Regions from separate parts of the Homo sapiens genome. Here regions 2 and 3 are each linked to region 1. The links come from fine-mapping of genetic effects on gene expression. A gene starts in region 1. Each other region holds a variant in brackets. All regions are shown on one strand. Distances are between the middles of the regions.

What was found. PIP is the estimated chance that this variant, and not a neighbour inherited with it, causes the effect.
Region 2: its variant is the best candidate, but not a certain one, in a credible set for the expression of IFT46 in lymphoblastoid cells after a statin (CAP, PIP 0.64).
Region 3: its variant is the best candidate, but not a certain one, in a credible set for the expression of IFT46 in T cells (GENCORD, PIP 0.85).

The regions. Positions count from the first base shown.
Region 1 is chr11:118,563,861-118,568,860 of GRCh38, reverse strand. IFT46 (intraflagellar transport 46) reads left to right here and starts at 2,930. Exons shown (of 12, transcript NM_001168618.2): 1 at 2,930-3,071; 2 at 3,800-3,896. LOC124902764 (a long non-coding RNA gene) reads right to left here and starts at 3,800. Exons shown (of 4, transcript XR_007062907.1): 1 at 3,487-3,800; 2 at 3,156-3,249; 3 at 2,575-2,659; 4 at 262-783. RefSeq lists an enhancer at 2,658-2,887.
Region 2 is chr11:118,715,175-118,726,410 of GRCh38, reverse strand. LOC124902766 (endogenous retrovirus group K member 7 Env polyprotein-like) reads left to right here. Exons shown (of 3, transcript XR_007062912.1): 1 at 1-2,716; 2 at 4,336-6,218. Among named protein-coding and RNA genes, the nearest start is that of TREH, 41 kb to the right of the region's middle. RefSeq lists enhancers at 1-10, 4,521-5,261, 6,002-6,743, 6,782-7,587, 8,396-9,201 and 2 more. The variant C/T (reference allele first, on the strand shown) is at 5,355.
Region 3 is chr11:119,370,115-119,381,350 of GRCh38, reverse strand. It overlaps USP2 (ubiquitin specific peptidase 2), which reads left to right. Exons shown (of 13, transcript NM_004205.5): 2 at 7,830-8,644. The coding sequence starts at 7,871. Among named protein-coding and RNA genes, the nearest start is that of USP2, 6.0 kb to the left of the region's middle. RefSeq lists enhancers at 1-583, 3,541-4,129, 4,446-5,024, 7,891-8,391. The variant G/A (reference allele first, on the strand shown) is at 5,353.

The DNA of each region.
Region 1 (5,000 bases):
AACATGGTGAAACCCCATCTCTACTAAAAATACAAAAATTAGCTGGGCGTGGTGGCCCATGCCTATAGTCCCAGCTACTCGGTGGGAGAATCGCTTGAACCCCGAGGCAGAGATAGCAGTGAGCTGAGGTCTCGTCACTGTATTCCAGCCTGGGCGACAGAGTGAGACCCTGTCTCAAAAAAAGAAAAAAAAAGTGACAATGGGTACAAACTTTCTTTAGGGGATGATGAAATGTCCTAAAAAAGATAACAACTGTACACATTTATGGGGTAACTTTTTATTTATTTATTTATTATTTATTTATTTATTTTGAGACAGTCTCACTCTGTCGCCCAGGCTAGAATGCAGTGGTGCCATCTTAACTCACTGCAACCTCCGCCTCCCGGGTTCAAGCGATTCTCCTGTCTCAGCCTCCTGAGTAGCTAGGATTACAGGCATGCACCACCACACCTGGCTAATTTTTGTATTTTTAGTAGAGATGGGGGTTTCACCATGTTGGGACAGGCTGGTCTTGAACTCTTGACCTCTGGTGATCCACCTGCCTCGGCCTCCCAAAGTCCTAGGATTACAGGCGTGAGCCACTTCACCTGGCCCAATTTTAATTTTTGTTACAAAAAGCAGACATATTTTAAGAAACATGGAACAAATTCTTATTTTTTTAGAAAAGTAAAAATCCTGTTAGAAACTATTGCCTTATTGTAGCACCTTCCAGGGCTTCCAACTTGGATCTCAGAAGCTCAGCAAAGACCAGTTGATGCTGCTTCTTCGGAAATATAACGGTAGCTGAATTAAACCACAGAAGAAAAAGCAACCCTGTAAGCATGCTTCTTGAGGAGTCCCATAGTGGCAGTATCTTATAATGGTTAAAAGCAGAGACTTAGGAATCAGACTGACCTGTGTTTGGCTGCTATTTTCAGCGCTTATTATGAGTGACTTTAGGCAAGTTACTTTAACTGTCTAAGCCTCAATTACTTAATCTGTAGATTGGCAGTAACATCTATCTCATAAGGTTGTGAAGTAAATTAGATGATATAATCTAAGTGCTCCCCACAAAAAAACTAAGTGCTCCTACATAGTAAGTACTGCACATTACATATCCACTATTACGAGCAAAACAGATCACAAATTTTTTTTTAAATGCAGTTCTATTTTTAACTATCAGTATGCCAGAAAAGCTGTCTCTCATTTTTTAAAGGCACTTTCCTTGTTTACCTCTGGTAGGTTTTCAGGGTCAAATTTCCAATATTATTTTCTTTTTAAAATGTATTGCTATTATTATTATTTTGAGACGGAGTCTCGCCCTGTCGCCCAGGCTGGAGTGCAGTGGTGCGATCTCGGCTCACCACAACCTCCACCTCCCGGGTTCAAGCAATTCTCCTGCCGCAGCCTCCTGAGTGGCTGGGATTACAGGCGCGCGCCACCATGCCTAGCTAATTTTTGTATTTTTAGTAGAGACGGGGGTTTCACCATGTTGGTCAGGCTGGTCTTGAACTCCTGACCTTGTGATCCACCCACCTTGGCCTCCCAAAGTGCTGGGATTACAGGCGTGAGCCACCGTGCCCGACCAAAAAATTATTATTGTTATTATTCATTATTTATATTTGAGATGGGGTCTTGATCTGTTGCCCAGGCTGGAGTGAATGCAGTGGCCCAATCTCGGTTCACTGCAACCTCTGCCTCCCTGGCTCAAGCAATCCCCCCGCCTCAGCCTCCCGAGTGGCTAGCACTATAGGTGCGTGCCACCACACCTGGCTAATTAAAAAAAATTTTTTTTTTATTTTTAATAGAGTGGAGGGGGGCGGTTCTTGCTATGTTGCTCTAGCTGGTCTCAAACTCCTGAACTCAAGCAATCGTCCCACCTCTACCTCCTGAAGTGCTGGGATTACAGGTGTGAGCCACCGCACCTGGCCTCCAATATTTTATGTTTCTCTCTCCCTGACTTCCCAAATTAATTATGTCCACAGTTTGAAAATATTTGTTCCTTACATCTCCATTCACTCATTCCTCGATTCATCCACCCAATGAGCATTGTTAGTGTCTAATTTCTGCAATACACTGGTGTTACAAAGCTTAAAAATTAATTAGACACAGGTCTTGCTTTAAATAAGTTAAAAGTCTACTTTAGCAAATAAGAAAGACAGGACACAGAGTGAAAAAAAATTTTTTTTGAGACGGAGTCTCGCTTTGTTGCCCAGGCTGGAGTGCAGTGGTGCGATCTCGGCTCCCTGCAAGCTCCGCCTCCTGGGTTCATGCCATTCTCCTGCCTCAGCCTCTCGAGTAGCTGGGACTACAGGCGTCCGCCACCACGCCCGGCTAATTTTTTGAATTTTTTAGTAGAGACGGGGTTTCACCGTGTTAGCCAGGATGGTCTCGATCTCCTGACCTCGTGATCCGCCCGCCTTGGCCTCCCAAAGTGCTGGGATTACAGGCGTGAGCCACCGCGCCCGGCCCACAGAGTTAAATTTGAACCTCAGATACCCAAGGAATAATTTATTGCTATAAGTATGTTCCATTCCATGGCACCCTGTGGAGGGGAAAGACTATAGTGTAATATAGTGCTAGAAAAGGACTTACAGAGTGCTGCGAAATTTCCCCTGGAATGTGTCTACATCCTGGTAAGACTGATCTGGGAGCAACTGCATCCCCAGAGATTGTTGTCCTAGGGGAACAAACGCACACCTTGTTTCCAGATTGAAGGGCTAACTCTACACCAGCCCGAAATTTATCAGCCGCGTTGCCACCCATAGCCGCTAGATGCCGCAACAGACGTATTTACTGAAACCATAGACAAACAGGCGACTTGGCCGCCCAGAGAGGCTTTATCCGTGACTCCTTGATCTTCTTCCTGCGTGGAGAGCCTTCGCGGGTGAGGCTTAACGCGCAGGAGGTCTCACGAGAGTGGAAGCAACTCTCGCGAATTTTAAAATTTATCTTTTTGCCTAGCGACTGACAACAGGCTGGTTGCTTGGCGTGGAATCCTAAAGTGGCCTGGCTTTGAGACTGGAGTGAGACCCCAGCCCTAGGCTGGGGTTCTTTCCATTATAGAGGAGACGGATTCAGAAGGGCTACAGGTAATTAGTACTCATCCCAGCAAAAAGGGAACTGTCTTTCTAGAGAGGCTTAAGAGGACTCCCCTTTACCCCATTCCCGGTTACCTCTTCCAATCTCCGTGGTAACTGTTCCTTCGTCACCTCACCACCAACCGTCCTGCTTCCTTTATTCCCCCAAGAAACTTAGGTGGGATCCTATCTGCAAGATAAGGGTGAAAGTGGAGGTGATGATTTTGGGATTATCGGATGGGACTGAGAGACTGGAGTTTCCCCTCTCTTCGGGGACCCTCCCACCCTACCCCGCCTCAGCCCACCCCACCCCACCCCACCCCACCCCACCCCACCCCACCCCAGAGGTGACTCCAGAGACAGAACTCTTTCTAGAACCTCTACAGCCTTCCCTGAGAAACCTCAACAGCCTTGGCCATCTACATACAAATAGTGTTCTGCCCTTGCGCGTGGTCGTACAGCTTTGGGAAGCTGCAGAAGTTGGCTCTCTTTCCCTCCACGATTCCCTGGTTCCTCAGCCAGCCTGCCAGCAGTTCCTAAATAAGGGCTGCAACAGAATGACTTAACTGCTTGACCGAGGGCCAGGAAGCCTGAAGGAAAGTTTGGATGGGGTGATGGTTTTGTGAAAAACTGGTTTCTTGAGTAAGGAAGAGGAGCCAATGCTGGTTTGGAATATACCTCCTGGCAGAGTGCTTTATGTCTCATGATAGGAGCTATGAATTATGTCTCCCTTTGCTTAGACCAAGGTTGTTGAAAACCAGACATATGATGAGCGTCTAGAGATTAACGACTCCGAAGAGGTTGCAAGTATTTATACTCCAACCCCAAGACACCAAGGTAAGAGAGGAAAGAAGAGAAATGCTACTGAAAGAGCAGGATGGATTCACGGTTGTCTTCAAGAAGTTCTTATTTTATAATAGCAAATGTTGACTTTCAGCGTCAATTTACTTCACTTGCCATTGTTTGTTTTCTGACTAGTTAAGGGGGAGAAATCATAGCCTTCCAAATTACAGGATCTTCCCCCAATCCAACCCTGTCACCATTTACTTCATGTTACTGCTTTGCTCACTGTCTGCCAGGAATTCACTGTTCTTTTTCTTTTTCTTTTCTTTTTTTTTAACTTATGTTTTTCCTAGCTTTGAAGATGCTTCATAACCTCCCCTTAGCCTGCAACCCCAACCAAAATCACAGTGGAATGTTTTTAAAGGACTGAACACTATTTATTTATTCAACAAACTTTTTTTTCTTAATTTTATAGAGACGAGGCCTCGCTATGTTACCAAGGCTGATCTTGAACTCCTAGCCTCAAGCAGTCCTTCCGCTTTGGCCTCCCAAAGTGCTGGGATTATAGGTGTGAGCCATCGTGTCTGGCCAACAAGCATTTTAAAATGCCTACTGTGTGCCAGCCTTATGCCTGGCACTTGGGTAAATAGTGTTAAATGACACAATGTCCCTGCCATCCCGATGCTGGTAATCATGGGAGGCAGATGACAAATGAGTAAACACATGCCAAATGTGGTAAGTGCACACTGATGGAGGCAGATTGTTTGCTGTTAAGGAGAATAACAGTGAGGAAGGAGACCCACTTTTTTTTTTTTTTTTTTTTTTTTTTTGAGACAGAGTCTCACTCTATCACACAGGCTGGAGTGCAGTGGTGCGATCTTGGCTCACTGCAATCTCCGCCTCCTGGGTTCAAGTGATTCTCCTTCCTCAGCCTCCCGAGTAGCTGGGATTACCACACCCAGCTAATTTTAGTATTTTTAGTAGAGACGGGGTTTCACCATGTTGGCCAGGCTGGTCTCGAACTCCTGACCCCAACTGATCCACCTGCCTCGGCCTCCCAAAGTGCTGGGATTACAGGTATGAGCCACCGTACCTGGCCAGAAACCCACTTTTGATAGGGTGGTCAGGGAAGACCTAAAGGGGTGACATGTAAGACTG
Region 2 (11,236 bases), 150 kb before region 1:
CTCCATTATATAGCCCCAGGAGTCAAAAAATCATGACCAAGATGGGATATATACCAGGAAAGGGACTAGGGAAAAATGAAGATGGCATTAAAGTTCCAGTTGAGGCTAAAATAAATCAAGAAAGAGAAGGAATAGGGTATCCTTGTTAGGGGCGGCCACTGTAGAGCCTCCTAAACACATACCATTAACTTGGAAAACAGAAAAACCGGTGTGGGTAAATCAGTGGCCGCTACCAAAACAAAAACTGGAGGCTTTACATTTATTAGCAAATGAACAGTTAGAAAAGGGACATATTGAGCCTTCATTCTCGTCTTGGAATTCTCCTGTGTTTGTAATTCAGAAGAAATCCGGCAAATGGCATATGTTAACTGACTTGAGGGCCGTAAACGCTGTAATTCAACCCATGGGGCCTCTCCAACCTGGGTCACCCTCTCTGGCCATGATCCCAAAAGATTGGCCTTTAATTATAATTGATCAAAAGGATTGCTTTTTTACCATCCCTCTGGTGGAGCAGGATTGCGAAAAATTTGCCTTTACTATACCAGCCATAAATAATAAAGAACCAGCCACCAGGTTTCAGTGGAAAGTGTTACTTCAGGGAATGCTTAATAGTCCAACTATTTGTCAGACTTTTGTAGGTCAAGCTCTTCAACCAGTTAGAGACAAGTTTTCAGACGGCTATATTATTCATTATTTTGATGATATTTTATGTGCTGCAGAAACGAGAGATAAATTAATTGACTGTTATACATTTCTGCAAGCCGAGGTTGCCAATGCAGGACTGGCAATAGCATCTGATAAGATCCAAACCTCTACTCCTTTTCATTATTTAGGGATGCAGATAGAAAAATTAAGCCACAAAAAATAGAAATAAGAAAGACACATTAAAAACACTAAATGATTTTCAAAAATTGCTGGGAGATATTAATTGGATTCGGCCAACTCTAGGCATTCCTACTTATGCCATGTCAAATTTGTTCTCTATCTTAAGAGGAGACTCAGACTTAAATAGTAAAAGAATGTTAACCCCAGAGGCAACAAAAGAAATTAAATTAGTGGAAGAAAAAATTCAGTCAGCGCAAATAAATAGAATAGATCCCTTAGCCCCATTCCAACTTTTGATTTTTGCCACTGCACATTCTCCAACAGGCATCATTGTTCAAAATACTGATCTTGTGGAGTGGTCATTCCTTCCTCACGGTACAGTTAAGACTTTTACATTGTACTTGGATCAAATAGCTACATTAATTGGTCAGACAAGATTATGAATAATAAAATTATGTGGAAATGACCCAGACAAAATAGTTGTCCCTTTAACAAAGGAACAAGTTAGACAAGCCTTTATCAATTCTGGTGCATGGCAGATTGGTCTTGCTAATTTTGTGGGAATTATTGACAATCGTTACCCAAAAACAAAAATCTTCCAGTTCTTAAAATTGACTACTTGGATTCTACCTAAAATTAGCAGACGTGAACCTTTAGAAAATGCTCTAACAGTATTTACTGATGGTTCCAGCAATGGAAAAGTGGCTTACACAGGGCCGAAAGAACGAGTAATCAAAACTCCATATCAATCGGCTCAAAGAGCAGAGTTGGTTGCAGTCATTACAGTGTTACAAGATTTTGACCAACCTATCTATATTATATCAGATTCTGCATATGTAGTACAGGCTACAAGGGATGTTGAGACAGCTCTAATTAAATATAGCATGGATGATCAGTTAAACCAGCTATTCAATTTATTACAACAAACTGTAAGAAAAAGAAATTTCCCATTTTATATTACTCATATTCAAGCACACACTAATTTACCAGGGCCTTTGACTAAAGCAAATGAACAAGCTGACTTACTGGTATCATCTGCATTCATAAAAGCACAAGAACTTCATGCTTTGACTCATGCAAATGCAGCAGGATTAAAAAACAAATTTGATGTCACATGGAAACAGGCAAAAGATATTGTACAACATTGCACCCAGTGTCAGGTCTTACACCTGCCCACTCAAGAGGCAGGAGTTAATCCCAGAGGTCTGTGTCCTAATGCGTTATGGCAAATGGATGTCACGCATGTTCCTTCATTTGGAAGATTATCATATGTTCATGTAACAGTTGATACTTTTCACATTTCATATGGGCAGCTTGCCAAACAGGAGAAAGTACTTCCCATGTTAAAAAACATTTATTGTCTTGTTTTGCTGTCATGGGAGTTCCAGAAAAAATCAAAACTGACAATGGACCAGGATATTGTAGTAAAGCTTTCCAAAAATTCTTAAGTCAGTGGAAAATTTCACATACAACAGGAATTCCTTATAATTCCCAAGGACAGGCCATAGTTGAAAGAACTAATAGAACACTCAAAACTCAATTAGTTAAACAAAAAGAAGGGGGAGACAGTAAGGAGTGTACCACTCCTCAGATGCAACTTAATCTAGCACTCTATACTTTAAATTTTTTTAAACATTTATAGAAATCAGACTACTACTTCTGCAGAACAACATCTTACTGGTAAAAAGAACAGCCCACATGAAGGAAAACTAATTTGGTGGAAAGATAATAAAAATAAGACATGGGAAATAGGGAAGGTGATAACGTGGGGGAGAGGTTTGCTTGTGTTTCACCAGGAGAAAATCAGCTTCCTGTTTGGATACCCACTAGACATTTGAAGTTCTACAATGAACCCATCGGAGATGCAAAGAAAAGGGCCTCCACAGAGATGGTAACACCAGTCACATGGATGGATAATCCTATAGAAGTATATGTTAATGATAGTGTACGGGTACCTGGCCCCACAGACGATCGCTGCCCTATCAAACCTGAGGAAGAAGGGATAATGATAAATATTTCCACTGGGTATCGTTATCCTATTTGCCTAGGGAGAGCACCAGGATGTTTAATACATGCAGTCCAAAATTGGTTGGTAGAAGTACCTACTGTCAGTCCTAACGGTAGATTCACTTATCACATGGTAAGCGGGATGTCACTCAGGCCACGAGTAAATTATTTACAGGACTTTTCTTATCAAAGATCATTAAAATTTAGACCTAAAGGAAAACCTTGCCCCAAGGAAATTCCCAAAGAATCAAAAAATACAGAAGTTTTAGTTTGGGAAGAATGTGTGGCCAATAGTGCGGTGATATTACAAAACAATGAATTCGGAACTATTATAGATTGGGCACCTCGAGGTCAATTCGATCACAATTGCTCAGGACAAACTCAGTTGTGTCCAAGTGCACAAGTGAGTCCAGCTGTTGATAGCGACTTAACAGAAAGTCTAGACAAACATAAGCATAAAAAATTACAGTCTTTGTACCCTTGGGAATGGGGAGAAAAAGGAATCTCTACCCCAAGACCAAAAATAATAAGTCCTGTTTCTGGTCCTGAACATCCAGAATTATGGAGGCTTATTGTGGCCTCACACCACATTAGAATTTGGTCTGGAAATCAAACTTCAGAAACAAGAGATCGTAAGCCATTTTATACTATCGACCTAAATTCCAGTCTAACGGTTCCTTTACAGAGTTGCGTAAAGCCCCCTTATATGCTAGTTGTAGGAAATATAGTTATTAAACCAGACTCCCAAACTATAACCTGTGAAAATTGTAGATTGTTTACTTGCATTGATTCAACTTTTAATTGGCAGCAGCGTATTCTGCTGGTGAGAGCAAGAGAAGGCGTGTGGATCCCTGTGTCCATGGACAGACCGTGGGAGGCCTCGCCATCCATCCATATTTTGACTGAAGTATTAAAAGGCATTTTAAATAGATCCAAAAGATTCATTTTTACTTTAATTGCAGTGATTATGGGATTAATTGCAGTCACAGCTACGGCTGCTGTGGCAGGAGTTGCATTGCACTCTTCTGTTCAGTCGGTAAACTTTGTTAATGATTGGCAAAAGAATTCTGCAAGATTGTGGAATTCACAATCTAGTATTGATCAAAAATTGGCAAATCAAATTAATCATCTTAGACAAACTCATTTGGATAGGAGACAGACTCATGAGCTTAGAACGTCGTTTCCAGTTACAGTGTGACTGCAATACGTCAGACTTTTGTATTACACCCCAAATTTATAATGAGTCTGAGCATCACTGGGACATGGTTAGACACCATCTACAGGGAAGAGAAGATAATCTCACTTTAGACATTTCCAAATTAAAAGAAAAAATTTTTGAAGCATCAAAAGCCCATTTAAATTTGGTGCCAGGAACTGAGGCAATTGCAGGAGTTGCTGATGGCCTCGCAAATCTTAACCCTGTCACTTGGGTTAAGACCATCGGAAGTACTACAATTATAAATCTCATATTAATCCTTGTGTGCCTGTTTTGTCTGTTGTTAGTCTGCAGGTGTACCCAACAGCTCCGAAGAGACAGCGACCATCGAGAATGGGCCATGATGACGATGGCGGTTTTGTCGAAAAGAAAAGGGGGAAATGTGGGGAAAAGCAAGAGAGATCAGATTGTTACTGTGTCTGTATAGAAAGAAGTAGACATAGGAGACTCCATTTTGTTCTGTACTAAGAAAAATTCTTCTGCCTTGAGATGCTGTTAATCTATGACCTTACCCCCAACCCCGTGCTCTCTGAAACATGTGCTGTGTCAAACTCAGGGTTAAATGGATTAAGGGTTGTGCAAGATGTGCTTTGTTAAACAAATGCTTGAAGGCAGCATGCTCTTTAAGAGTCATCACCACTCCCTAATCTCAAGTACCCAGGGACACAAACACTGCGGAAGGCCGCAGGGACCTCTGCCTAGGAAAGCCAGGTATTGTCCAAGGTTTCTCCCCATGTGATAGTCTGAAATATGGCCTCGTGGGAAGGGAAAGACCTGACCGTCCCCCAGCCCGACACCCATAAAGGGTCTGTGTGAGGAGGATTAGTATAAGAGGAAGGCATGCCTCTTGCAGTTGAGACAAGAGGAAGGCGTCTGTCTCCTGCCCGTCCCTGGACAATGGAATGTCTCGGTATAAAACCCGATTGTACGTTCCATCTACTGAGATAGGGAAAAACGCCTTAGGGCTGGAGGTGGGACATGCGGGCAGCAATACTGCTTTGTAAAGCATTGAGATGTTTATGTGTATGCATATCTAAGAGCACAGCACTTAATCCTTTACCTCGTCTATGATGCAAAGACCTTTGTTCACGTGTTTGTCTGCTGACCCTCTCCCCACTATTGTCTTGTGACCCTGACACATCCCCCTCTCGGAGAAACACCCACGAATGATCAATAAATACTAAGGGAACTCAGAGGCTGGCGGGATCCTCCATATGCTGAACGCTGGTTCCCCGGGTCCCCTTATTTCTTTCTCTATACTTTGTCTCTGTGTCTTTTTCTTTTCCAAGTCTCTCGTTCCACCTTA[C/T]GAGAAACACCCACAGGTGTGGAGGGGCAACCCACCCCTTCAAGCCTCTGCTCCTCCACCCTATAATTCTTTTATCACCTCCCCTCCACACACCCGTCCGGCTTACAGTTTCATTCCGTGACTAGCCCTCCCCCACCTGCCCAGCAATTTACTCTTAAAAAGGTGGCTGGAGCTAAAGGCATAGTCAAGGTTAATGCTCCTTTTTCTTTATCCCAAATCAGATAGCGTTTAGGCTCTTTTTCATCAAATATAAAAAACCCAGCCCAGTTCATGGCTCGTTCGGCAGCAACCCTGAGATGCTTTACAGCCCTAGACCTAAAAGGTCAAAAGGCTGTATTATTCTCAATATACATTTTATTACTCAATCTGCTCCCGACATTAAATAAAACTCCAAAAATTAAATTCCAGCCCTCAAACCCCACAACAGGATTTAATTAACCTCACCTTCAAGGTGTACAATAATAGAAAAAAGTCGCAATTCCTTGCCTTTACTGTGAGACAAACCCCAGCCACATCTCCAGCCCACAAGAACTTCCAAACGCCTAAACCGCAGTGGCCAGGCGTTCCTCCAGAACCTCCTCCCCCAGGAACTTGCTACAAGTGCCAGAAATCTGACCACCAGGCCGAGGAATGCCTGCAGCCCAGGATTCCTCCTAAGCCGTGTCCCATCTGCGCGGGACCCCACTGGAAATCGGACTGTTCAACTCACCTGGCAGCCACTCCCAGAACCCCTGGAATTCTGGCCCAAGGCTCTCTGACTGACTCCTTCTCGGCTTAGCAGCTGAAGACTGATGCTGCCTGATCGCCTTGGAAGCCCCGTAGACCATCGCGGATGCCGAGCTTTAAGTAATCTCACAGTGGAGGGTAAGTCCTTCCCCTTCTTAGTCAATACGGAGGCTACCCACTCCACATTACCTACTTTTCAAAGGCCTGTTTCCCTTGCCTCCATAACTGCTGTGCGTATTGACAGCCAGACTTCTAAACCTCTTAAAACTCCCCAACCCTGCTGCCAATTTAGACAATACTCTTTTGAGCACTCCTTTTAGTTATCCCCACCTGCCCAGTTCCCTTATTAGGCTGAGACACTTTAACTAAATGATCTGCTTCCCTGACTATTCCTGGATTACAGCTGCATCTTATTGCTGCCCTTCTTCCCAATCCAAAGCCTCCTTTGCGTCCTCCTCTTGTATTCCCCCACCTTAACCCACAAGTATAAGATACCTCTACTCCCTCCTTGGTGACCAATCATGCACCCCTTACCATCTCATTAAAACCTAATCACCCTCACACGGCTCAATGCCAATATCCCATCCCACAGCATGCTTTGAAAGGATTAAAGCCTGTTATCACTCGCCTGCTACAGCATGGCCTTCTAAAGCCTATAAACTCTCCTTACAATTCCCCCATTTTACCTGTCCTAAAACCAGACAAGCCTTACAAGTTAGTTCAGGATCTATGCCTTATCAACCAAATTGTTTTGCCTATCCACCCCATGGTGCTAAACCCATATACTCTCCTATCCTCAATACCTCTCTCCACAATCCATTACTCTGTACTGGATCTCAAACGTGCTTTCTTTACTATTCCTTTGCACCCGTCATCCCAGCCTCTCTTCGCTTCACTTGGACTGACTCTGACACCCATCAGGCTCAGCAAATTACCTGGGCTGTACTGCCACAAGGCTTCACAGACAGCCCCCATTACTTCAGTCAAGCCCAAATTTCATCCTCATCTGTTACCTATCTCGGCATAATTCTCATAAAAACACACGTGCTCTCCCTGTTAATCATGTCTGATTAATCTCCCAAACCTCAATCCCTTACAAAACAACAACTCCTTTCCTTCCTAGGCATGGTTAGTGCGGTCAGAATTCTTACACAAGAGCCAGGACCGCACCCTGTAGCCTTTCTGTGCAAACAACTTGACCTTACTGTTTTAGCCTAGCCCTCATGTCTCCGTGCAGCGGCTGCTGCCGCCCTAATACTTTTAGAGGCCCTCAAAATCACAAACTATGCTCAACTTACTCTCTACATTTCTCATAACTTCCAAAATCTATTTTCTTCCTCATACCTGACGCATATACTTTCTGCTCCCTGGCTCCTTCAGCTGTACTCACTCGTTGTTAAGTCCCACAATTACCATTGTTCCTGGCCCGGACTTCAATCCGGCCTCCCACATTATTCCTGATACCACACCTGACCCCCATGACTGTATCTCTCTGATCCACCTGACATTCACCCAATTTCCCCATATTTCCTTCTTTCCTGTTCCTCACCCTGATCACGCTTGATTTATTGATGGTGGTTTCCACCAGGCCTAATCGCCACACACCAGCAAAGGCAGGTTATGCTATAGTACAAGCCACTAGCCGGCCTCTTAGAACCTCCCATTTCCTTTCCATCGTGGAAATCTATCCTCAAGGAAATAACTTCTCAGTGTTCCATCTGCTATTCTACTATCCCTCAGGGATTATTCAGGCCCCCTCCCTTCCCTACACATCAAGCTCGAGGATTTGCCCCCACCCAGGACTGGCAAATTAGCTTTACTCAACATGCCCCGAGTCAGATAACTAAAATACCTCTTAGTCTAGGTAGACACTTTCACTGAATAGGTACAGACCTTTCCTACAGGGTCTGAGAAGGCCACCGCAGTCATTTCTTCCCTTCTGTCAGACATAATTCCTCAGTTTAGTCTTCCCACCTCTATACAGTCTGTTAACAGACCAGCCTTTATTAGTCAAATCAGCCAAGCAGGTTTTCAGGCTCTTAGTATTCAGTGAAACCTTTATATCCCTTACTGTCCTGTGTCTTCAGGAAAAGTAGAACGGACTAAAGGTCTTTTAAAAACACACCTCACCAAGCTCAGCCACCAACTTAAAAAGGACTGGACAATACTTTTACCACTTTCCCTTCTCAGAAGTCAGACATGTCCTCAGAATGCTACAAGGTACAGCCCATTTGAGCTCCTGTATAGATGCTCCTTTTTATTAGGCCCCAGTCTCATTCCAGACATCAGACCAACTTCCACCGTGCCCCCAAAAAAACTTGTCATCCCTACTATCTTCTGTCTAGTCATACTCCTATTCACCGTTCTCAACTACTCATACATGCTCTGCTCTTGTTTACACTGCCGGTTTACACTGTTTCTCTAAGCCATCACAGCTGATATCTCCTGGTGCTATCCCCAAACTGCCACTCTTACCTCTTGAAGTAAATAAATAATCTTTGCTGGCAGGACTATGCTGAATCTCCTTAGGCACTCTCTAATCAGATGTCCTGAGTCGTCCCAATTCTTAGACCTTTTATACCTGTTTTTCTCCTTCTCTTATTCCATTTAGTTTTTCAATTCATACAAAACTGTATCCAGGCCATCACCAATAATTCTAAATGACAAATGTTTCTTCTAACAACCCCACAATATCACCCCTTACCACAAAATCTTCCTTCAGCTTAATCTCTCCCACTCTAGGTTCCCACGCCACCCCTAATCCCGCTCGAAGCAGCCCTGAGAAACATCCCCCATTATCTCTCCATACCATCCCCCAAAATTTTCGCCATCCCAACACTTTACCACTATTTCATTTTATTTTTCTTATTAATATAAGAAGACAGGAATGTCAGCCCTCTGGGCCCAAGCTAAGCCATCATATCCCCTGTGACCTGCACGTACACATCCAGATGGCTGGTTGCTGCCTTAACTGATGACAATCCACCACAAAAGAAGTGAAAATGGCCCGTTCCTGCCTTAACTGATGACATTGTCTTGTGAAATTCCTTCTCCTGGCTCATCCTGGCTCAAAAGCTCCCCCACTGAGCACCTTGTGACCCCCACTCCTGCCTGCCAGAGAACAACCCCCTTTGACTGTAATTTTCCTTTATCTACCCAAATCTTATAAAATGGCCCCACCCCTATCTCTCTTCACTGACTCTCTTTTTGGACTCAGCCTGCCTGCACCCAAGTGATTAAAAGCTTTATTGCTCACACAAAGCCTGTTTGGTGGTCTCTTTACACGGACGTGCATGAAAGTGGCCGGGCACAGTGGCTCAGGCCTGTAATCCCAGCACTTTGGGAGGCCGAGGCAGCTGGATCACAAAGTCAGGAGTTTGAGACTAGCCTGACCAACATGGTGAAACCCTGTCTCTACTAAAAATACAAAAATTAGCCGAGTGTGGTGGCATGCACCTGTAATCCCAGCTACTCAGGAAGCTGAGGCAGGAGAATCGCTTGAACCTGGGAGGCGGAGGTTGCAGTGAGCCAAGATCACGCTATTGCACTCCAGCCTGGGTGACAGAGAGAGACGCCATCTCAAAAAATAAAAATAAAAAGTAAAGGGGAAAAAGCAGGCAGGAGGGGAAAGGGAACATTAAAAAAAAAAAAAAGAGGGAGGATATGGTCACTTTGTTTTGCGGCTTTGTTTAAGCTCACTGAATCCACATGTTGCACAGGAAAAAAAGGGAGTAGAAGGCCGGGCACGGTGGCTCACGCCTGTAATCCCAGCACTTTGGGAGGCCGAGGTGGGAGGATCACCTGAGGTCAGGAGTTTGAGACCAGCCTGGCCAACAAGGCGAAACCCCATCTCTAATAAAAATACAAAAATTAGCCAGGCGTGGTGATGCACGCCTGTAATCCCAGCTACTGGGGAGGCTGAGGCAGGAGAATCGCTTGAACCCGGGAGGCAGAAGTTGCAGTGAGCCAAGATCACACCACTGCACTCCAGCCTGGGTGACAGAACAAGACTCCGTCTCAAAAAAAGAAAAAAAAAAAAGGGGGTGGGGGCGGGGGGTAAAAGGAACAGTCAATTCTGTATTCATCTCACATGGTAAATTGGCACTTTACATAAGACAAAATAAACAGAGTACAGGAAACAGTCAAATATGCATTTATCTTGGAGTGGGTGGGGACGATGATTTCTAGTCTCCTCTTGTCCCTTACCTACCCTCATCCCCCGCCTGCAAAGATAAGCTGTTAATTTACATTGTCAGGGTGAAGGAGGCCACCTGTGGCCTTCCATCTGCAGCTATCAGTTTAGAAACAAAAGGAAAGGCACTTGTTCCCGCCCCCTCCCGTGACTCAGCTTCCACACTTAACTTTTCCTTTTTGGCATAGTGAATTTGGGCTCCCAAGATTTTATTCTTCCTTTCACACTTTCTGGCTTATCAAGTTGCTCATTTACTTCTCAAGGTCAGCTAGGTGCCTGGAATTTCCCTTGAAGGAAGGAACTCAAGGTTTTTGTTTTATTTCCATGCTGGGGTGGTCGGGGGAGCAGCCACAGGCCTCTAAGGAGGAATCCTGCTCTGTCTCAATCACAGGGTCTCTGCTAAGAGAATGCAGCCTTCTAACATGCTGCTAGACACAGGCAGGATGAAACACTCCAGTCTGGTGGAACAAAACCTAAATCAAGCTTGTCCAACCCACAGCCCACAGAGTGCATGTGTCCCGAGACAGCCTTGAATGCGGCCCAATGCAAATTCTCAAACTTTCTTAAAACATCATGAGATTTTTTTGTGATTTTTTTTTTTTTTTTAGCTCATCAGCTATCGTTAGTGTATTTTATGTGCAGCCCAAGGCAATTCTTCTTCCAGAGCAGCCCAGGGAAGCCAAAAGATGGGGCAACCCTGAAAATCAAGTCACTGCAGTGTGGTTTCACAACCTTTTACACAGGCCTCAGAGCTAAGCTAGTGCAGGGATCCAGGGCCTGTGGCCTGAGACAGGCCAGGCCCCTTTGGGAAGGACCCTGCAATGTGCCACAGGTAACCTGTGACTCTTCCCCACGCCCTCACCCTCCCACCCCATATGCACAGAGGGATCTGCAGCCATTCCCCAGGGTAACGGGGGCAGTCACTGTGTGCAGGGGCAGATGTGGGTTTGGGGGCTGTAAATAA
Region 3 (11,236 bases), 810 kb before region 1:
GCCGGCTGTGCAGGGACGCTCCAGCTGTGTCTGCCAGTTGTGTGAGGGCTGCCTGCTGACAGCCCAGGGTGCCAGGAAGAGCCAACTGTGTGCTGATCAGTGTATTCTAAGGAAATGCTGCTTTGGCGGGTCCTCCTCGCTGTGCCCCGTGTATATCGGTGGTATGTGGCCTGAGCGACACTGACAAACCCCCTCCCCACGTGTGCGTGCAGCTCACTCGCTGCTCTTAAAGCTCCCCGGTCAGTTTGCTAAAGGGGGTTAGGGGCGGGGGTTGGGCAACAATTAAGCGGAAGGGGAGATTTTCCACCAATCCCAAACCAGAAAGAGGCAGCTTTGAAATTCTCACCAGTCCCAAACCAGAAGCAGGCACGCGGTGCTCCGGAGAGAGCAACTTCTCAACAGTCAAGGGAAGCCCTAGCCAACCCATTCTAGCCCTTCCCTGAAGAGTGAACATCCTACCTCCTGACCTGGCTGCCTTTAGAATGGGACTGAGCTGGAGGTAGTGGTAGGGGCTGCTCACCTCCCCTGGAATGGGCATGAGAACATCCCCCAGATGGACCCCCGTAAAGCAGAGGAAAGGAGAGCTGATTGGGCTAAGGTCGAGGCAGGCCCCCTCCTTTGATGCTGTAGATGCATGTCAGACTGGAGTCAGAATGAGGACTGGAATGAGGGCGTCCTCTGAAGTGCATCATTAGGACCTGGGCTGAGTCAGTAGCCTGTGCTAAGACAGGGTGGAGGCACCAGGCTGGGTACTCCCAGTCCTCGGGGAGAGCCATCGAGAAACGTCCTGGGAGCAGACAAGTGCACCAAGGCCAGAGAGGCTAAGAACCCCGTTCCTTCCTCTTGTGACCCTGCCCAGCCCGGCTCTGTGGCCCTGGAATCCTGAGCCCTCCCACAGGTAGAGTGGAACCACCCCAGAGGGGCCAAGCATTCTCCTGGTGGCCTGGGGGAAGCTGCACTTGCCGTATTTTTCTAGGCAAAGGGGGAAGGAGCCCAGATGGGCTTGGCCTTTCTCTGCTTGGTGGACTGGACGTCTAGGAAGATGGCAAGCCTTGTTTGCCCTTCCCAGTTATGGGACATGGTCAGTTCAGAAAACCAAGGGACTGTTCTCTGGCATTAGAAAGGCACACTTCCGGCCGGGAGCAGTGGCTCAAAGTGCAGTAATCCCAGCACTTTGGGAGGCCAAGGCGGGCGGATCACAAGGTCAGGAAATCGAGACCATCCTGGCTAACACGGTGAAACCCCATCTCTACTAAAATTACAAAAAAATTAGCCGGGCGTGCTGGCGGGAGCCTGTAGTCCCAGCTACTCGGGAGGCTGAGGCAGGAGAATGGCGTGAACCCAGGATGCGGAGCTTGCAGTGAGCCAAGATCGCGCCACTGCACTGCAGCCTGGGCGACGGAGACTCCGTCTCAAAAAAAAAAAAAAAAAAAGAGAAAGGAACACTTCCCCAGGAGTAACCCTCCTTTTCTCCCTAGGAAGGTTCACCTGGTAAGGCGCTATTATTAATAATACCACTAATTATAATAAGAAGTGGAAGTATTCAATATAATCATCAATGTTTATTGAACTCTATGGGCCATGAAATTTACAAATATTATTTTATTTAATCCTCACAACTGAGATAGACCACTATTATTACTATTAGTCCCGTTTTGCAGATTAAATAGCTAAGGTTCAGAGAACTTAAGTGACTTATCCACTATTTCAGAGCCAATAAGGGAAAGAACTAGCCTCCAATCCCAGGCCTAGAAGTCCATTAGAAAAGAATATTGGACTGAAACCTGAGTACTAGTCCCCTTTCTGCTTCTCGCTATCTGCACATGCCCTTGAGCAAGCTGCTTTCTTTCTCTAGGTCTACTCTATCTCAAAATTAAGAGTGGGGCTAACTGTATGGCTTCTTCCTGTTCTCTAATTCTGTGACTGACTGCTCTGGAAAATCCACTTTCTCCATATTTTTGTCTCAAGTTCCACCCCCACCCCTCTGTGCTCTTTTCAATGCTCTTTCCTCTTGAATCTCCCGATTGTTCCCCTTCAAAATGCCCCCCTTCCAAGAGTCCTCACAGACCTCCTTGGCTGGCACTGGCCCGAAAGGGCAGCCCCTCAAGGTGAGCACGCCACTGCCCCTTTAATTCTCCTGGGGCTTGGAATGCAAGTGAGTTGCACTCGCCATCTCTGCGAGTCTGCGAGGTCAGATAAGATACTATATATATCGGAGTCAGTAACCTGAGCTCCGGATTACCCAGCCCAGAGTCAGGCTCCAGCTTCTGGGCTTTCCACTGCATTCCCTGCCCTGCTGGGGAAGGAGAAGCCCCCAGCTCCCATCCAGTGCCCCTGGACACAGGTCAGTAGCTGCCCCTTTGGTATCTGAGCTTCTCTGGGACTCTACCTAGAGGAAAGACATCAGTGAATCTGGGAGAGCATGTGAGAGGCCACCCCATTGGGCCCGGTGGGTGTCAGGGGCAAGACCAAAGGCTCCTCCGGAGGCTGAGAACAGAGGAAAGATGACGCCCTAGAGGAGAAGGAAGGAGACCGGGGCTCTCCCCTTGGGAGGGGGCACCAGGAGAGTACCTGGGCAGAGGTGCTTGGAAAAGAGAATTTAAGGATCCCAATACTACCTGGAGGCCCATTTCTTTGCCTTGTCTTGGAAGTGTATAGATGCCCACCCACTCACAACCCCAAATCAAGGAGCACCCTATAGAAACTGCCCTGGGCCCATCCACTTCTTCTCCACCAGTCAGGATTCTTGCCTTAATCTCCAGTCTCTTTATCTTACCTCCTCCCCTCCCCCAGCTCTTGGGTAACTACTGGGAGCACAAGAAAGAGAAATGGACCCAAATTCCCTTGGATGACCCCCTGCCAGGGGAGGCAAGAGGATTAGGCTGGTGGATCAGCGGGTGCTAGCCCCTGATAGACAAAGCCTAGTGACAGGCTGGAGGGGAGGAGGCCAGCCCAGGCCCTGGGGCCTGAGAGGAGTAGGCGGAGTTCAAGGACTGTTTGAGCATAAATATGCCCCCGCCCCCCCATCCCCTACTCTACCCATGTCCTCTACACCTGCCAGGATTCCCTCATCCCATCCTCCAGGACCAGACACTTGTGCCCAGATAGTGCAGCAGGTGACCCAAGCAGCTGGGAGGCAGGGTCAGAGTGCAGATGGAAGGATACAGGGCCCCCTCTCACCCACCTTGTCCTTCAAGGTCAGCACATTCTGATGCTGTTAGCAAGTGGCTTTAGGAAGCTCTGAGGTCACCACTGTGGGGGCTCCCAACCACCTGGCGGGACTGGCTGGGACTCCCCACTCACCTTTTCCGGGCACCTGAGTAGGAGGGAAGAGACTTAACCCTGTTTAGGCGTGCTTCTGAAACTCAGCTAGAGGCTCTCTATCCAGGCCCCAGTAGCAAAGCAGGCTTTCACCCCAGAAAGCCAAGCAGATCTGGGCAGAGAGAAGCCATGAAGGTTACTGGGATGTGGGGCATCACCCATCCCCTGCCCCCAGGGCCAGGAGCGCCTGGAATTCCTGGGGAGCAAGTCCCTCCCCTGGCTGGGCAGGTTAGGGAGCCCTTCATGTGAGCAACAGGAAATGACAGTGGCTGAAGCAAAGGGGTTGGCTGCCCCACGGGGACAGGGTTCATTTTAACCCCTGACTCACCCAGCATGGGTACCTTGAGGAGTGGGCCAAGCTGCAGCCAGGGTAGGAGGCTAGGGACTTGCTCATAACCAGGCCAGGGACCCAAGGCCCCGAGCTGGGGTAGATGCTGGTGCCAGGGGACATGCAGGGGCTTGGCACAGTGGGTGAAATGGAGGCTTCCTGGACCATCTCTCGGCCTATCAGTATTGTTCTGGGGCTCGAGTTGCACCTGGCTTCACTTTCATTCACCTGCAGTGGAAAATCCAGAGGGCTGCTCCTGCCAGAGTCTGTACACCGCATGCTGTTACTGGATGACGGACACCTGGATCCTGTGGTGGTCCTTCCCTCAAACCCCACCCACAGGTCCCAGTCCTGACCCGTCCCATGGAGAGCCAGGGAAGAGTGAAGCAGGGGTCTGGGCTTCAGGCCAGATATAGCAGACAGAGCACGAGTCCAGCCCAGCTCTGCCACTGCTCCCAGTGTGACTTTGGGAAATCCACATCACTCCCAGCATCGCCAACTTCCTCATCTGCAAATGGACGTGATAACAGCACCTACCGCTTAAAGGAGCAGGGAGGATTCAGTGAGTTAATGCACTGTGTCCCAAGCCTTAGTGCAGTTTTAAGCTTTAATAACTTCAGAAATATGAATGCTAAAAACTTCATTTGAAAGTTTCCATATTTAAATTTCTTGTATATTTATTTTTTAATTGTGAAAATGTTTTTAAATTTTAATTTAAATAATTTAATCTGTCCAAAGAGGTGTGTAAGTTGGAGACATTTATGTCTGAAAGAATCCCAGCTTAAACCTGCACTAAGACTTTTTGGGGTGCTCTGTGTATGAAGCACATCTAGAAGAATGCGTCACATGGCAAGGGCCGATGAGAGCTGATGTGAGACTGCAGAGAAGATGGACTCAGAAGCTGCATGTGAAGTACTCAACATGCCTGGGGCCTGGTTCAGAGGTGATCAGCACCAGCCAGCTGGGGTGACAGCTGCTTGGCTCAGATGCCCTGACAGGAAGCCCAGTGCCTCTGTGCAGAGGAACTCTGCTGCACCTCCCAGGAGAGGGAAACTGAGCAAAGCAACAGGAATCTCTGACAGAGAAGGAAGGGTCAGGACACCTCAGTGAAGATGGCCAGGAGGAGGAGCTGGGCAGGGGACTGCCCCCATTGTCCAAGGTGGCGGACACCTGGAGAGGCGCTGCCTGGAGCTGCATGCCTGTACTTGCCAGCTCTGGGTAAACAGTGAAAGGAGCTGGGCAGCAGGGGCCCCCCGCACTGGGCAGGGAGGGGTATGGGGGATCCCAGCCAATTGGCTTGCCTCCCACTGCCCCATGAAAGGGCCATTCAGTTCAGGCTGTTCCTGTGGCAACAGGGAGACTCGCAGCCACGTGAGTGCCCGTCCTGTCCCTGTCTTGCGCAGCGAGACTCCGGCCAGGGCCCCAGCCCGCTCTCCTGCCCATAGTGCATTCTGTGGCCTCCAGGGACAGCTGTGCAGGTAATGCCAAGGGGCACCAACCCAGGCTGTGCTTTCACCTGGAAGGTGCTAGGACCTTTGAGAGTGAAACTGGGGGTTGCGGGAGGGGAGAGACATGTGGAAGGCCCCGGCCCCAGTAGGAACCCTCTCCGCAGGCATGGGAACTGTAGCTAGAAGTCAGAGCCGAGAGGCAGCTTCCATGGAGTATTAGTGATGGCATGACTCCCAGGGCTGCTAGGAGGAGGC[G/A]GAGGGGTCTGGCAATCACCTGCCAGATGGGAGGGAGAGTGGGGATTTGGGAGCCCTCCTGGGAATCTGTGGGCCAGAGATGTGGCCCCACCTCCGGCTCCAAAGCCTTTCAGAGCTGTCTGTCCCTGTCCTCTGGACCTCGTTTGGCCCCAGCACTTCTGCGTCATCAGCAGGGTCAAGGGATGTCACGGGCTTGGGGCGCTGCCCGAAGAATACCAATTCCCTGAGAGCCTTACTGTGGGGGAGGGAGAGGGAGAGCTGTGGGGAGGAGCCATGAGCTCATACCCTTGTTGGGGGGATTGTATCTGATTGGCTGCCTGGTGTCCCAGAGCCCAGCTCCTGAGACCTGGAGTCTCTTTGACTTTGCATTATTGATGGAGTTCTCCAAAGCAAAATAGGGCAGGACTGGGCCCCCACCCCGACCCTGTGCCTCTGTCTGTCTCTCCCGCTATGGTTTCCCTCTAACGCTGTGTGACATCATCCCCCAGTTACCTTTTCCTAGAAAGGGGTGAAAGTTGTGCTGGGCACAGTGGGCAAAGGAGTGTACATGAAGGGCCAGGGGCCCCCTGGGCCAGGTGGCAAAAGGCTAGACAGTAAGATGGACCAGGCCTTTCTGATGTCAGCCTGGACTGAAAACTGCTGGAGTTCTCAGGCAGGGTCAAGGAATGCTGTTCCGGGCCTATATGGAAGCCACCTGCTCATCTCTCACCCCTGTACCTACCCCAAAGCCTTGTGTGGACTGGGATTCTAGAGCTTTCTGCCAAGCCCTCGCATTTGGGGTTTGGCACCAGCTCCTCTCTGCCCTAATGGGCTGGGTTGCCAAGCCAGTGTCTGCTGAGTGGCCAGATGTCTGCCCACTGCCTGTTTCTCTCGCTGGGGGCTGCAGGGGGAGGCCTGGCATCCCAAGCTGAGGCCAGAGGCTGGCCAGGCTGGGAGACAGCCAGCCCTGATATTATCACAGACCTTCAGAGGGCGGAGCCATGCTGCCTCGCAGTAGCTGGGGGAGGAGATGGTAGCCACTGTCATTGTGGAGCCCTTCACGTGTTGTTATCTCATTTATTCCTCACAACAGCCCTGTGAGGTAGGAATTATGAGGATGATGGTTTTACTCATTTACAGATGAGGAAGTTGGGGCTCAGAGAGGTTACGTGACTAGTGCAAAATCACCCAGCTAGTCCATCACAGGGCAAGTCCCACAACTCTGAGAGTCCTGGATGGCTCTGCTCCATCCCCCTAGAAAGCCCCCCAAGAGCCCCTGATGCCCTCGGGGAAAGGCGTCTGACCCTACTTGCTCCTCTGCCACTCCAGCTCCATTGGATACAGGCTGCACGTTTACGGTGATGGAAGGCCTCTGGGGGTCCCCAACTGACCCTAAATCTGATGCGGGGGAGGTAACTCCAGGTTAAGTAGAAAGAACACTGGCCAGGATTTTAAAGACCTGGATTCCAGTCCTGGCTCTGCTGGTGTGTGGCCGGGGGCAAATAAGCATCACTTTTCCCATCTGTATAACAGATAGATTAAAATTCATGATCCTCTGGGGCTCTCAAAGCTCCACATTCAGCAGTGTCTGTGTTCCTTCACTAGACCCTCCCCAGCTGCAGGACTGGAGCAGGGAAGGACTGGGAATGCCACCTGCAGTGCAAGATTTGGGACTGTAGGGGGCCCCCTTTGCACAAGCATCGCCAGGACCAATTTGAGATCTGTGTTTGTAGAGGAAGCCTGTGTTGGTAGAGGAACTCTTAGGAGGCCACAGGGCCCTAACTCCACTTAGAACAGAAGCTTAGCTCAGTGAAGTGAGTGTCCCTCACTGTGGGACCATGCAGCAGGTGCTGGTGTCTGGGGAAAGGGTCTGGAGACCACGTTCTGGCCCCTCATTGTTGCATGCTCACTCACGGCCTCCCCTGCCCACCCACACCCCATTACTTCCTCCCCTGAGCCTCCTTGGCCTCACAGGGGATCTGACCAAATGATCTTCAGGTCATTCCAGCACAGACAGTCTAGGATTCCAAAAAGACACCTGCTCATCACATAAGTCAGAAGGGACAGATGTGGTCTTAACTCCTGAAATATCCAGCATTCTCAACCCAGGGGTCAGTGGCATTCCCCCAGCTCAAGAGTTTCTGCAGATGCTGAGGCAATGGGATTTGACCTGGAAGACTGCACGGCTTGGTGGGCTGTGGAGGTCAGATAGCCCCTGCTTGCGTGTTTGAGTCTTTGAATGGCCAGGATGCGCTGACTTCCTGTGTGGCATATAAAAGCCACCTCATCCCTCGCACTCTCACCGAGGTGTGAACACACAGGTGCAAGCAAGCTCCTGTGCACACCTGCGTGCATGTGTGCTTCTCAGCAGCCAGCCTGCCTCTTGTGGAAATGGACTGGGAGCTCTGAGGTTCTGGCCCAGCTGAGGATGGGGAGCAGGTCTGTGGGAGCCCGACACCTGGCAGGGCCCTCTGACAACTACACTCCTTGTCTTTCAGCCCATGAGGCTCCCAGTCCCCACTGAGTGCCACCCTGAAGGATGTCCCAGCTCTCCTCCACCCTGAAGCGCTACACAGAATCGGCCCGCTACACAGATGCCCACTATGCCAAGTCGGGCTATGGTGCCTACACCCCGTCCTCCTATGGGGCCAATCTGGCTGCCTCCTTACTGGAGAAGGAGAAACTTGGTTTCAAGCCGGTCCCCACCAGCAGCTTCCTCACCCGTCCCCGTACCTATGGCCCCTCCTCCCTCCTGGACTATGACCGGGGCCGCCCCCTGCTGAGACCCGACATCACTGGGGGTGGTAAGCGGGCAGAGAGCCAGACCCGGGGTACTGAGCGGCCTTTAGGCAGTGGCCTCAGCGGGGGCAGCGGATTCCCTTATGGAGTGACCAACAACTGCCTCAGCTACCTGCCCATCAATGCCTATGACCAGGGGGTGACCCTAACCCAGAAGCTGGACAGCCAATCAGACCTGGCCCGGGATTTCTCCAGCCTCCGGACCTCAGATAGCTACCGGATAGACCCCAGGAACCTGGGCCGCAGCCCCATGCTGGCCCGGACGCGCAAGGAGCTCTGCACCCTGCAGGGGCTCTACCAGACAGCCAGCTGCCCTGAATACCTGGTCGACTACCTGGAGAACTATGGTCGCAAGGGCAGTGCATCTCAGGTGCCCTCCCAGGCCCCTCCCTCACGAGTCCCTGAAATCATCAGCCCAACCTACCGACCCATTGGCCGCTACACGCTGTGGGAGACGGGAAAGGGTCAGGCCCCTGGGCCCAGCCGCTCCAGCTCCCCGGGAAGAGACGGCATGGTGAGTTTACCCTTGGGGACCGGGGATAGGCTGGGGAGGCAGCCACTGATGGAGAACAGCCAGGCTGAGGGCTCGACTCCCAACCTGACTGATGACTGACAGGCTGCTCCTGGTGGAGACAAACAAGAGAAGTCATCCTGGCACATCTGGTGCCCCTGGGGCTCCGTGCCGAGGGGAGGGGCCTTCCCACTCTGCCTAGAAAGCCCACTCAGGGCCCGCGCACTCGAGGATAGTCCAGTAGTGTTCTCAGGAATGCTCTGCTGCGCCCAATGAACCACTCTTCTCACCTTCTCCTTTTCTATGTGACATGCCAGTGTCTCCTGCAGGCCTTGCCCCAACCTGGGCTGGATGCGGGGGGGCCCAGACCACCAGTGCACCCTGTGGCAGGAGGGCCTCCTTGCTGTGGTTGCATCTCCCCTCTTGTGCAGGCTTTATTCCCTAGCCCCAAGGCCTGGCTTTACATTTGGACATAAGACATCAGGGGAAGAGGGACTCTCCTCTGAGTGACACTGGCATACTCAGGACCAGGGTATCAGACAGCAATGCTTATCATCTGGCTTTGGAGAAAGTAGGGGAGAAATTTTTATCTAGGGCTTGAGACAATCCAATACCTCTATTCCAGCCCTGCCTCAGCTGGAATGAGGGAAGAGGCTCTGCTGGAGACTGACCAAGGGCTGGCATGGGCTCGCTCGCCAACTAATGCCCGCACACGCCTCTCTTGGGGCACTGACGACATCTGCCTTTTCTGTAGTTATTAGTGTGCCCATTAGGTGGCAAGCTCTCAGAGGAGGAAAAAGAAATCCTATCTCTAGATCCCCTGCCACGTGCCTCCCACAATGGGGGCTGACCTGCTGATTGCAGGGATGAATGGATGGATGGATGTGTGGGTGGTGGGTGGGTGGATACACGGGTAGATGGCGGGTGGACAGATGGACAGGCAAGCATATGGGCAGAAGGGCTGGATGCTGTGTCTCCTCCATTACCTTATGTACCCCTCCCTACTCCTAGGACAAATACATTTTGAAAACAACAGCATGCCACAGCAAGAAATACTGCTTGGAGGGCTGATCCAGACAAATGCAGCAGGGGTTCAGGAATAGGGGCAGGACCTTGAAGCTTGCATAACTAAAGGTCTTGAGAGAGCAACTTTGATAATATGACTTAGGGAGTCTTGGCTTTGTTGTGCCATCTGTGAAGTGGCACAGGAGATAGAAACGCTGGTGCCTCCCAGAACATTCAGAACTTGACAAGGCAGGGCTGGATCCACTGTAGAAAGGAGTGGAGAAGAGAGATGTGTCACAACAGAGCTGGCATGGTGGGGAAGTATCAGCTCTCAGGGTGCTGCGTGCTGGGCTTGGAGTGGAGCAGGACTCACTTGGACTCGGCTGGTGCTGTTCAACCCCAGGGCAATTAGAATATGGCTCTCCTCGGAGGGGCTCGGGTCCTAGAAGCCTCTGCGGGGCTCCCTCCCCTTGCTCAGAAGAGAAGGGTTGTTTCATGGTCAGCAGTGCTCCTTAAAGTGGGGTCTGCAGACTGCCTGTGTCAGAGTCACTGCAGGGCTTAACGATTCATCCAAACCCACTGAAGCAAACTCTCTCGGGATGGGGCCTGGGAAGCTGCTCTTTCCACAAGCTCTTTGGGTGATCTCTAGGCATGCTGAGATGGAAAACCTCAGCGCAGACTAAACTACAGACCCACCCTCAGCCCCAATCATGACAGCAGTATTCCCCTTTACTGGGGATCAGATTCCACTGGGAATCTGCCTCCTCCCCACACAGGCATGGCCCAACCCTCCTGGGAGTCTGCCGCCCTCCAACTCTCCAGAAGGGACAACCCTGGCTCCTCCCCCCGGCTCCAGGGCCAAGGTGAAGGGAATTTTGAGAGAGGACCTCAAAGAAGTGGCAGATTGCCCTGGGACAAACTCAGCCACCCTCATCCAGAAGCAACTCATAAGGCACTTTAGCCGGGAATGCCCTGCAGTTGAGCTAGTGTTTCATTCTGAGCTCATGCCCCAGAAGATACTGCCAACCAGCAGAGGCCTCTCCAGGGTCAATAGTACAAGACCTTTATTTAACCTCACCCTGATCTCTCCACCCCTTATCGTCATTTCCTGGAGCAGAGTGCGTCTTGCTGAGGTGAGAACAACCCTGCTCGTGCGGCCTGGACCACTTCTTTCTAAAACTGGGTCCAGTTTCTTTCTAGATCTCCATCTGGGGATCTTGCCTTCTGAGGCACTCATTTGTGGTGCTCAGCTTACTAGCAGCGTGACCTCAGATAGGTCCCTTAGCTTCTGAACTTGTGTCCTCCTCTGTAAGATGAGTGATCATAGTTCCCACTTCACAGATTACTTGAGGAATGAAAAGATAATGTATGTGAAAGTGCCTGGCATGTTGCTTAGTAAATGTTAGTCCTCGTTGTTGTACCCTTCTGGTGCTTTGGCAGGCAAGAGATGTGTGCGAGCAACAGTCCCTGCCTTCAGTGCCTTCACAATTCACTTAGGGAAATAAGTTTGTTTTGTTTTGTTTTTTTGGAGATGGAGTCTCGCTCTGTCTCACTCAGGTTGGAGTGCAGTGGTGCGATCTCGGCTCACTA